Homo sapiens: one gene and its partners. The protein of the gene in region 1 interacts with the protein of each later gene in a pairwise test. Each region holds a gene or a part of one and is shown on either strand. Other genes may lie near its edges.

The links.
Region 2: the proteins of PRDM6 (region 1) and AQP1 interact in binary tests that used the Homo sapiens proteins (3 or more experiments, as listed by UniProt).
Region 3: the proteins of PRDM6 (region 1) and EXOSC5 interact in binary tests that used the Homo sapiens proteins (3 or more experiments, as listed by UniProt).

The regions. Positions count from the first base shown.
Region 1 is NC_000005.10:123,190,121-123,192,538, forward strand, and holds part of PRDM6 (putative histone-lysine N-methyltransferase PRDM6), read left to right. Parts: 3' UTR 1-2,418. UniProt on the Homo sapiens protein: Putative histone methyltransferase that acts as a transcriptional repressor of smooth muscle gene expression.
Region 2 is NC_000007.14:30,918,242-30,921,896, forward strand, and holds part of AQP1 (aquaporin-1), read left to right. Parts: intron 1-3,655. UniProt on the Homo sapiens protein: Forms a water channel that facilitates the transport of water across cell membranes, playing a crucial role in water homeostasis in various tissues.
Region 3 is NC_000019.10:41,390,830-41,394,484, reverse strand, and holds part of EXOSC5 (exosome complex component RRP46), read left to right. Parts: intron 1-1,504; coding exon 1,505-1,618; intron 1,619-2,522; coding exon 2,523-2,644; intron 2,645-3,655. UniProt on the Homo sapiens protein: Non-catalytic component of the RNA exosome complex which has 3'->5' exoribonuclease activity and participates in a multitude of cellular RNA processing and degradation events.

The DNA of each region.
Region 1 (2,418 bases):
AGAGCTGAATCAGGGTTTGGCTCTTGAAGCAATCCTTCTTTACTCTTTTCTTTCAATGGGGATAAAATAATAATAATTTTTTCAGAATAAGACTTTTCATCCTAGCGTATGTTCCTTTATTTAGCAGAGTCTAAGACGAAAGGTAATGCCAGGGAAAAGTCAGGGTGCAATAGGATGAGAGATGGAGCTGCAGACCTTTGCATTTCTAGAAAAATCTCAATATCCCAAGGCAAAGTTGTATTTTCCCCAGGATATGTGCATACATTTTTCATAGATAAGCTTTTCATTTTTGTTTTGTTTTTATCTTTAAAAATGACTTTTTTGGAGGAGATATACTTCTAAAAAGTTATTGTATGGCTAATTAAAGCTATGAAACTTAATCTCATATAATTTATATAATTTGATTCAGTTGGTACATTTTTTATTGTGTTCATTTAAATGTAGCCTTCTTGGGAAACTATGTATAACAGGAAAAGATCATGACATCATTGTGTCCTCATAGGGCTCATAATTGAATTTTACCTTGTAAAAATTTCATTCTGGTTCAGGTATGCAAAGATTTATACGAACATTTAGCAGTTCATCAATTTTTAAATCAGATGTTCATTGTTTCATTCATTTATTCAACAAGTATTTATTGAACTCTTATTTTATATAAAGACCCCATTTTATGTGTTCACCATAAGCAGCATTATTTAAGTGACTATTCATGATAAAATAATATTCTCCTCCTAAGTGGCTGCTAGTAAAATGGGTATTTTAGTCCTTTAGACCATTGTCTCAGTGAAGTTAAAGATTTTGTTCCAACTGGGAAAATCTGAGAGAGGTAAATTCATCTGGGGACCAGAAAATAGCATATTGCAAAACAAGTTAAGATGCACAACTTGGTTGTCTTTGCTTAACTCACTGGGCTATTGGTTGTTAGCAGCAGTATCAAGAGACCAGGATTAGGGCCTGGGTCTTGGGTTTTTATGACCCCCCCTTTCAATGATAAGGCAACAAGTTGGGTACAAGGCTGGAGTTGCTCAGGGAAGGAGATCTGCGACCCTGAATGGGTCAGAGTTGCCTCATTAGTGGTAAGCGTTGGCAGTGTAGTCCCTTTCCCCGGTGTGCAGAAGTAACATTATTTGTTTTGCACTAATTTAAAATTTAAAATGCAAGTATCTATTGAGTTGTTTAAAATGGGAATCATGGCACGTCTCACAAAGAGGGCATTTCCAGAACAGCAGGGTTAACGGGTCCCTCTGAGTGTACCCAGCAGCCTGCGTTTAGGAGCAAATTCATTGCTCTCATATTAAGGCTATGCATGCCTACAGAAACCAGGCCAGGAATAAGAAATAAATAATCACATTTCCTGAAATGTTTATCTGTTTCTTCCTTGACATGAATTTAATTTTTATTTCCCAGAGTCTTTACTAGATCCTGACATCAGATTTTAAAAGATACTGAGATATATGCTTCTTTAAATGATAACTGTAAGTTCCAGAAATGTTATTCACTTGTCAGGATCCTTTTAAGGTGAAGAGCTTTGGAAAATTTTATGCGCTAACTAGATACCTGGGTGATCATCAACCCAAAGTTTAAAGTTCTCCCCTCACTAGCATTTATCTGAACTACCACAAAACAACAACGCAGGTTACTAGGAAGGCACCTATTTCAGCCCTCCCCAAGATTGCATTCTACAAACCCAGAGATCAGCTGTCAGGTACAACTGGCCAGACAGAGCCAAACTGAAAAGAATATTGCTTTATCTGTGGAAACCTTGCCACAGATGTTTAACCTGTAGTCCATGGCTGTGTTTGACATTTAAAATATTTATTTAGTTTCTTCCTTTAAATAATAAATGCCAGATGTTTCATCAGATCAATATGTAAAACGATAACAAAAAATATGTCGGAAACAGGTCAAAGTCATGAAACATTTGAATTGTCTTTCCTATAGACTGAATATGCCACCACTGCACTTAGAAAACCTATGGAGGAAATTTTAATGGAAAAATAAGGACATTCTGCGCTTATTCCCACAGAGGTTGATGGGAATGATGATGATTATAAATTATATTGTGCAATTACTGCCATGCCTTGTTCTAATGCTTAATGTGGATTATCTCTTTTAATCCTTAGTAACTCTATAACAAAGATACTATCATTATCCCCTTCTCATATATGCTTAACAGTTTTAGCTTTGTAGCTTCTTTAGTTTTTTTCCTCCTTCAAAGCCATAAACAGGCAATTGTTAAAAGAGGAAAATACTTCTCTATGTAAAGCTTTTTTTTGAGAACAAGAGCTTTTAAAAATTAATAAACACAAGTATAATTTATTTATAAAATGTGTTTGTGGAAACAATACTGAAGTGCTATTAAAACACGTATCATTATAGATGCTGATTTTGTCATGCCCAAATCTCATTGCTGGACAG
Region 2 (3,655 bases), on another chromosome or scaffold:
TTGGCTTCTCAGAGTGCTGGGATTACAGGCGTGAGCCACCGCGCCTGGCCAGTTCTTTTATAGATTTTTAAAATGTAATTATTGTGTAATAAACCACTTACAATCTAACAAAAAAGAGAAAGAGGGAGTCAGCCCTGGACACATGTGGTCATCACAGACACAGCAGACACTTATCTACAAAGACACACAGAGGCACACAAAACCAGGAATCCCCCCATGTCCACGTGTGAACACCCATGGAGGAGTGACACTCTGGAGCCCACATAGGTCCCCTCACTGCCCAGTGCTGAGTCTTGGAGGCACTGGGGTGGGCAGGGCAGGCCTCGATGTCTCCTATCCCTTGAGAACGAAAGCTCAGAGCCTCAGTCAGGCCTGGCTCTGGAGCCTGCTCTTCCCCAAGGCCAGGGCACCAGGGTGCCCAGGCCAAGTCAGGGGCCCCATGCCTTGGAAGCCACCCTGGTTGGCCTGTCTATGGGTAGCAGGGAGTGCTTAGAGCACATTGCCTGGAGAGATCATCCCTGGGCTGCCCTAGAGCCAGGACACACTGGCAGCCACAGAACCACCTTCTGCCAGCTCCCAAGTCCAAGCTGGGAATAGCCAGGTCCCTTGACTGGGCCTAGGAGTGGCCAGCCCATTGACCTGTGAGTGTAGGGTGGCACAGACTATGGGGCAAGGATCCTGGCTTTGCTGCATCCTCCCTGGGCCTCAGCCTCTGCGTCATCATCTCACTGAGCCATCGCACAGGCTGCCCTCTAGGGCTCCCAGAGGCTAATGATTGGCCCATTGTTTCCCAGCTAGAAAGTGAAGAAGACCGCCCTGGGTCCGGAGAGCATCTCTGGAGCCAGGCTGCCCCTAGCAAGGGTGGGAGTTCTAGAAAATTAGCATTCTCTGCCACTTCTATCAGCACACAGTAAGCCTCCCCTCAGAGGCGTGGGCAGAGAAATGGCAGAGGTCCCCCACTCTGTCTTCACCGAGCTCCCAGGCCAGGAGGAGATGCACCCACATAGGCCGCAGGAAGATTGATTTCCTACAAGATGCACAGAGAATTCAGTGAGGGCATGGTGGGTGGGAGCAGAAGTTAATTCCAGCCAGGGATCTGGGAAGGCTTCTAGGAGCTGGTGGGGTCTGAACTGGGCCTTGAGTAGTGGGCTTACAAGGGCTTAGCACAAAATGGAGAGCTTGTATCTTTCTGACACTTCAGAAGAAATGTGTGGATTATTCTTTCGGTAATACTTGCATTCACAAAACCCAGGGCTGCAGACAAAAGCGGGAAGACAATTGAGAATTGAGAATTGAGAATTGTTCTGATTCTTACTTTTTTTTTTTTTTTTTTGCCTTAATAAGACCTGGGCCAGGCAAAACTACCTGGGGATGTGCAAATATATATGTACATATATATAAAACAAGTGACTACAATGGGAACTGTCCTTGTTTAAGCAAGTTTTCAAATTTAATGGGTTGTAAACAGTAACGTACATTTGAAGTATTTTACCTGCTCTTTCCTGGACATTGAGTTTCAACAGGCCTTTGAGTGCCCCTTCCAATTCTGAATTATCAAGTGTTTCCAGATGTAAATAATGCAAGTGTATTAGATAGTTGAAGGAAGGTTGTCAGTAGATGTTGAAGCTATCAGGGGAGGCTTCCTGGTGGTAGTGGTAGTGGGTATTGGAGAGGAAGGCTGTCAGCCCATGTGGTTCTCAGCAGTCACGAAGGCACATTCCAGAATTCCCAGGGCAGGTGGCTGACCCCTCCCCTTCCCAAGGACTCAGAGTACAGGGCCTGGAACTATCACCCTCTGCTCTGCCCACTTTGCATGAAAAGCATGTTGTCTTTGGGTAGGGGCTGGGGCTCTCGCACCTGGTTAAGAACCAGAGGAGATGAGCTCTTTCTGGTCACATCTGTGAGGGATGGGGCTGGGAGGGTTCTCCAAGGCGGGAGCCACTTACAGCGATGACTCCATTAATCATCGGGGAAGGGCTGGTTTCAGGACTTCTGCCAGCTAGCAATTAGGCCAACCCTGGAGAGCAGAAGAGAGAGGAATAGAAGGAGCCACGAGCTTCCTGAGGGCTCAGATACAGAGGGACAGGGGCCTCACAGGTGCAAGTGTGGGTGGGCATCAGGACTAGCCGGGCTGGCCTCACCAGCCTCAACCCCATTCAGCCTGTCCTAACTCTGGGCAGGCTTCTGCCAGCAGCTCCACCCGCCGTCACTCCTTCTGCCTGTCCCCAGATCCTGCACACACAATGAGAAGAACCAAAACAAGAGTCACTACCACTGCCCCATCCCTCCTGCGTCGACAACTCTTTCCAAAAGCCCTGAGACGGCCCCTTTGGCCTTTGAACCTCCCAGCTGCTCTGGAGAGCAGGCACGGACAATGAGATCCATTTTGCAGATGGGAAGACTGAAGACCAGAGGGAATAGGCCATGCTCATGGTGCCAGAAAGTAGAAGAGTCAGAACCTGAACACAGGGCTTCTGCCTCTTTGGCCCAACCTTGGGACAGAAAGGGAACTGGGCATTGGCCAGAGGGCTGGCGGACCTAAGGGATGTAGCCCTGGGGTCCGCCAGGAAAGGCCCAAAGCTGGGGCTGCAAGGCAGGGGAGGGGATGTGAGTCATTCCCTGTAACCCAGGGCTGCAGACAAAGGCGGGAAGAGAATTGTTCTTGTAGGATGGCCTCAGGGTGGGGCTGGGAAAACCTCCAAGGTGTGCCCCCCTACCTTGGATTTTGCAAAATTCTCTATGGCCTTGGAGACACTCCCATATCCTGAGGATGGGAGCTGGGTAGTTTGTCTCCCAGCTGGGAAGTGTTTGGGTGCACCAGCCCTGCCTGGGAGAAGGCAGCCTAAGTGGCCTCAAGTGGGCATCTTTGCAAGTGAGCCTTTGCTGATGTGGTCCATCTCCCCTGTGTGAGTGCACTTAGCCCCTGGGACGGCCACAAAGCATAGTGGAAGGTGCTGGGGCTTCCTGGGGAGGGGTCCTCCGGGGGCAGCTGCATGGGGAGGGCCTTCATGACCTCACAGCAGCTTCCATTCCCTTCTCTTTCCATGAGTCATGTTTCTAAAAGTGGCCCAGGAGTAAGTGGCAGCCAGACGGTGGTGGCGGGGCCTATCTGGCCAGGCAGAGGGAGGGTGAGGCTGAGGCCAGCAGTGGGGAGGAAGAAGAGAGAAGGAGAGACAGGGAGGGCAGGGCCAGAAGCAATGGGAGACAGGCCTTGGACCAAGGAAAGAGACGGGGTGGAGAAGGAGAGAGAGAGGGTGGAGACAATAGGGAGGCAGGCACAGAGGAGAAAGAGGGGTGGAGGGAGCCAGGACCTCACCGAAGGCCTCCTCAGCCCTGGAATTTAGATGCAGTCGGGCATGGGGTGGAATGTTCTGGACTTTTGGGTATGAAGCCGTGTCCCCTGCTGGGCCTTCCCACCTTTTTGCATCTCTTCTCCTAGGAGTGCTCCTGACCATCACCTTCATGCCTGGGGCTCGCCCCTTGCCTCTGGTCTTGGTACCCCAGAATACCCTGGCCTGGATGCAGCTGGATGCAAAGGCCCCAGCTCACCCCAGGCCTCTCCAGCTTCTAGGCAGAGTGGGGCCTGGGTCTAGGCAGGTATTAGGGGCTGGGCTGGAGTTTCATTAACACAGGGGGTGGGTTCAAGGCCTGATTT
Region 3 (3,655 bases), on another chromosome or scaffold:
TCAAACTCCTGGCCTCAAGCAGTCCTCCCACCTGGGCCTCCATAGTGCTGGGATTACAGGTGTGAGCCACCATGCCTGGCCTAAAATGTATTTTTTTTTTTTTATTGAGACTAAGCCTTGCTGTTATTGTCCAGGCTGGAGTGCAATGGTGTGATCTCGGCTCACTGCAACCTCCGCCTCCCCGGTTCCAGCAATTCTCCTGCGTCGGCCTCCCAAGTAGCTGAGATTACAGGCACCCACCACTATGCCCAGCTAATTTTTGTATCTTTAGTAGAGATAGGGTTTCACCATGTTGACTAGGATGGTCTCAAACTCCTGACCTCAGGTGATCCACCCACCTCAGCCTCCCAAAGTGCTGGGATTACAGCAGACAGTACTAGAAGCCAGGCTGTTTATTTCTTAGGTTTTACCTCCTGTACCCCGTTCATAGCTTCTGGGGAAATAAGGAATCAGGATTCATTCCAGATATTATCCCTTTCTCAGGTGTCCAGACTGATGCAAAATTTGGGGGCCAGTGCCTAAGGGAAGAGCTGGGCTGGGGAAGCTTTGGAAAGAGAAGTTGAGAGCAGCTGCAGTAAGAGGGAGGATGGTTAGCTTTCAGGAAGAACTTCCTGTTAAAAGTTACTAATACCAGCCGGGCACAGTGGCTCACGCCTGTAATCCCAGCGCTTTGGGAGGCGGGCAGATCATGAGGTCAGGAAGTTCGAGACCAGCCTGACCAACATGGTGAAACCCAGTCTCTACTAAAAATAAAAAAATTAGCCAGGTGTGGTGGCGCGCGCCTGTAATCCCAGCTACTCAGTAGGCTGAGGCAGGAGAACTGCTTGAACCCGGGAGGCAGAGGTTGCGGTGAGCCGAGATTACGCCACTGCACTCCAGCCTGGGCGACAGAGCAAGACTCCATCTCATTAAAAAAAAAAAAATTACTAATATCAGGGCCAGGCGTGGTAGCTCACGCCTGTAATCCTAGCACCTTGGGATTACAGTTGCCCAGGAGTTCGAAACCCGCCTGAGCAACATGGCAAAATCCCCTCTCTACTAAAAATATAAAAATTAGTCAGGCATGGTGGCACATGCCTGTAGTTCCAGCTACTTGGGAGGCTGAGGCGGGAGGATCACTTGAGCCCAGAAGGTCAAGGCTGCAATGAGCCGTGATGGCACCACTGCACTCCAGCCTGGGCAATGAGAGTGAGACCCTGCCTGAATGCCTGAATGGACGAATGTTACTAATACAGCTAAAGTCTGTTGCACATTCAGCGTGAGCCCCGCAGTGTTCTAAGTGTTTTCTGTGAATTGTGTCCTTTGATCCTCACAAGACGCTAGCGGGGAGGGACTGCTATTTTCCCCATTTTACAAATGAGAGAAATGAAGTGAGTGCTCAAAGAATCAGTACCAACAAATGGCGGGGGTGACGTGGGGAGCCCTGGCCGTCAGGCTCAGTGCCACAAATGGGGCCCCAGGAGCAGGGAAGCTGTGAGTGAGGCCCTCCCTGCTGTCTCCTCAGGTGACACCTCTGTCCTGGCGGGTGTGTACGGGCCGGCCGAGGTGAAGGTCAGCAAAGAGATTTTCAACAAGGCCACACTCGAAGTGATCCTGAGGCCGAAGATTGGGCTGCCTGGTAATTGGGCCCTGCTGAACCTCTGAGTGGTGCCCAGTTTGTCAAAATCACCCCCCCAGCTCCTCCCTACCAGCTGCCCCGAGTCTCCACTCCCCGCTTGGGTCTCCACTCAGCTGTTTCTGTCTTTAACTCTCCGCCTCTAATTAATAACTCATCTTCTGTTGCTTCTCTCTCTGCCTCTAATTTCTCCCTCCCTCTTTTCTCCCTCTCTCTGCCTCCACTCTCATTCATTCCATTAACCTGTTTTTCTTTTATTTATTTTTATTTATTTATTTTTTTTTTGGAGACAGTGTCTCGCTCTGTCACCCCGGCTGGAGTGCAGTGGCACGATCTCAGCTCACTGCAACCTCTGCCTCCCAGATTCAAGCAATTCCCCTGGCTCAGCCTCCCGAGTCGCTGGGATTACAGGCACGTGCCACCATGCCCACTAATTTTTTGTATTTTTTTAGTAGAGATGGGGTTTCACCATGTTGGCCAGGATGGTCTTGATCTCCTGACCTCAAGTGATCCGCCCGCCTCAGCCCCCCAAAGTGTTGGGATTACAGGCGCGAGCCACTGTGCCTGGACCATTAACCTGTTTTTCCACCCTTTTACCCTCATATCCCTCAGTCCCCACTGACTGGACCTGCTAGGGTGGGAGTGGGCGTGGGTAGCAGCACAGACATGGAACTCCCAGGTCTTCTTCCCTTGGATGGTTCCCTTGGTGGATGCTGGAGGTAGCAGGGGTCAGTGGATGGCAGTCAGGCCTTGCCTTCTTCCCACTGGAATCTTCCATCATCCCTGCAGGTAACTGCACCATCCCAGGCTGAGACCGTGAGCCCTTTCTGGGAATTTGGGTGAGGCGTATGGAGGAAGGTGAGTCAAATGAAGGGGAAGACCCTGAACCTCTCTTCAATTTCCCCAGGTGTTGCAGAGAAGAGCCGGGAGCGGCTGATCAGGAACACGTGCGAGGCGGTGGTGCTGGGCACGTTGCACCCCCGCACCTCCATCACCGTGGTGCTGCAGGTTGTCAGCGATGCCGGCTCTGTATCCTTTCTGCCAGGCCTCCTCCTCCAGGAAGTCTCCTGATTGCTTCCCTCCTGGCGGATACATATACCCTCACTGCTAGCCAGAAAGCCTTCAAACACTTGACAGGTACCAGCTCACTGAAGAAGGAGAGCAAACAGCCTGGGTGCTTACTTATGTGCCAGGCACTGTTCTGTGTGCCTTATGCACATTAACTCATGTAATATAGCACATGCCCTTATGATCCCCGTGGAAGTGGCAGAGCCAAGACTTAGACCCAGACCGTCTAGTTCTAGAGCCCACGGACCCTGGCAGATGAGTGTTCTTATGTTCGCATGTTTCAGGTGACAAAACTGAGGCCCAGAGAGGGGAAGGGGCTTGCCCAAGGTCACACAGCTGGAAGGCAGCACAGGCAGGACTCAAGCCCAGGCCAGTCTGACTCCAGAGCCTGTGCCAATCACTTCTTTTGTTTTTTGGGTTTTTTTGTTTGTTTTTGAGACAGGCTCTCACTCTGTCACCCAGGCTGGATGCAGTGGTGCAATGTCAGCTTACTGCAACCTCTACCTCCCGGGCTCAAGCGATTCCCATGCTTTAGCCTCCTGAATTACAGGTGGAATTACAGGTGCCTGCCACCACGCCAGGCTAATTTTTGTATTTTTAGTAGAGACGGGGTTTTGCTGTGTTGGCCAGGCTGGTCTCGAACTCCTGACCTCGAGTGATCAGTCCACCTTGGCCTCCCAAAGTGCTGGGGTTACAGGCATGAGCTACTGTGCCCGGCTGGCAATCACTTCTACTCGGCACCTCAGTGGATTTCAGGCCCTCAGTGCTGGGGGCGCCCTGAGCAGACAGCAGCTGAGTCAGGAGCGTGGCCTTGTAAGATCTCCATGTCTGAGGTGCGAGAGGTTGAGGTTGAGGACTAGAATTAGACACTGTAGAAGGCTTTACTGGAACGTGGCCCTGAACTGGACAGACATTTTATGGATGGGCAGAGAGAGAAGGTATTGTGACCCCATTTTACAGAAGTGGAAAGTG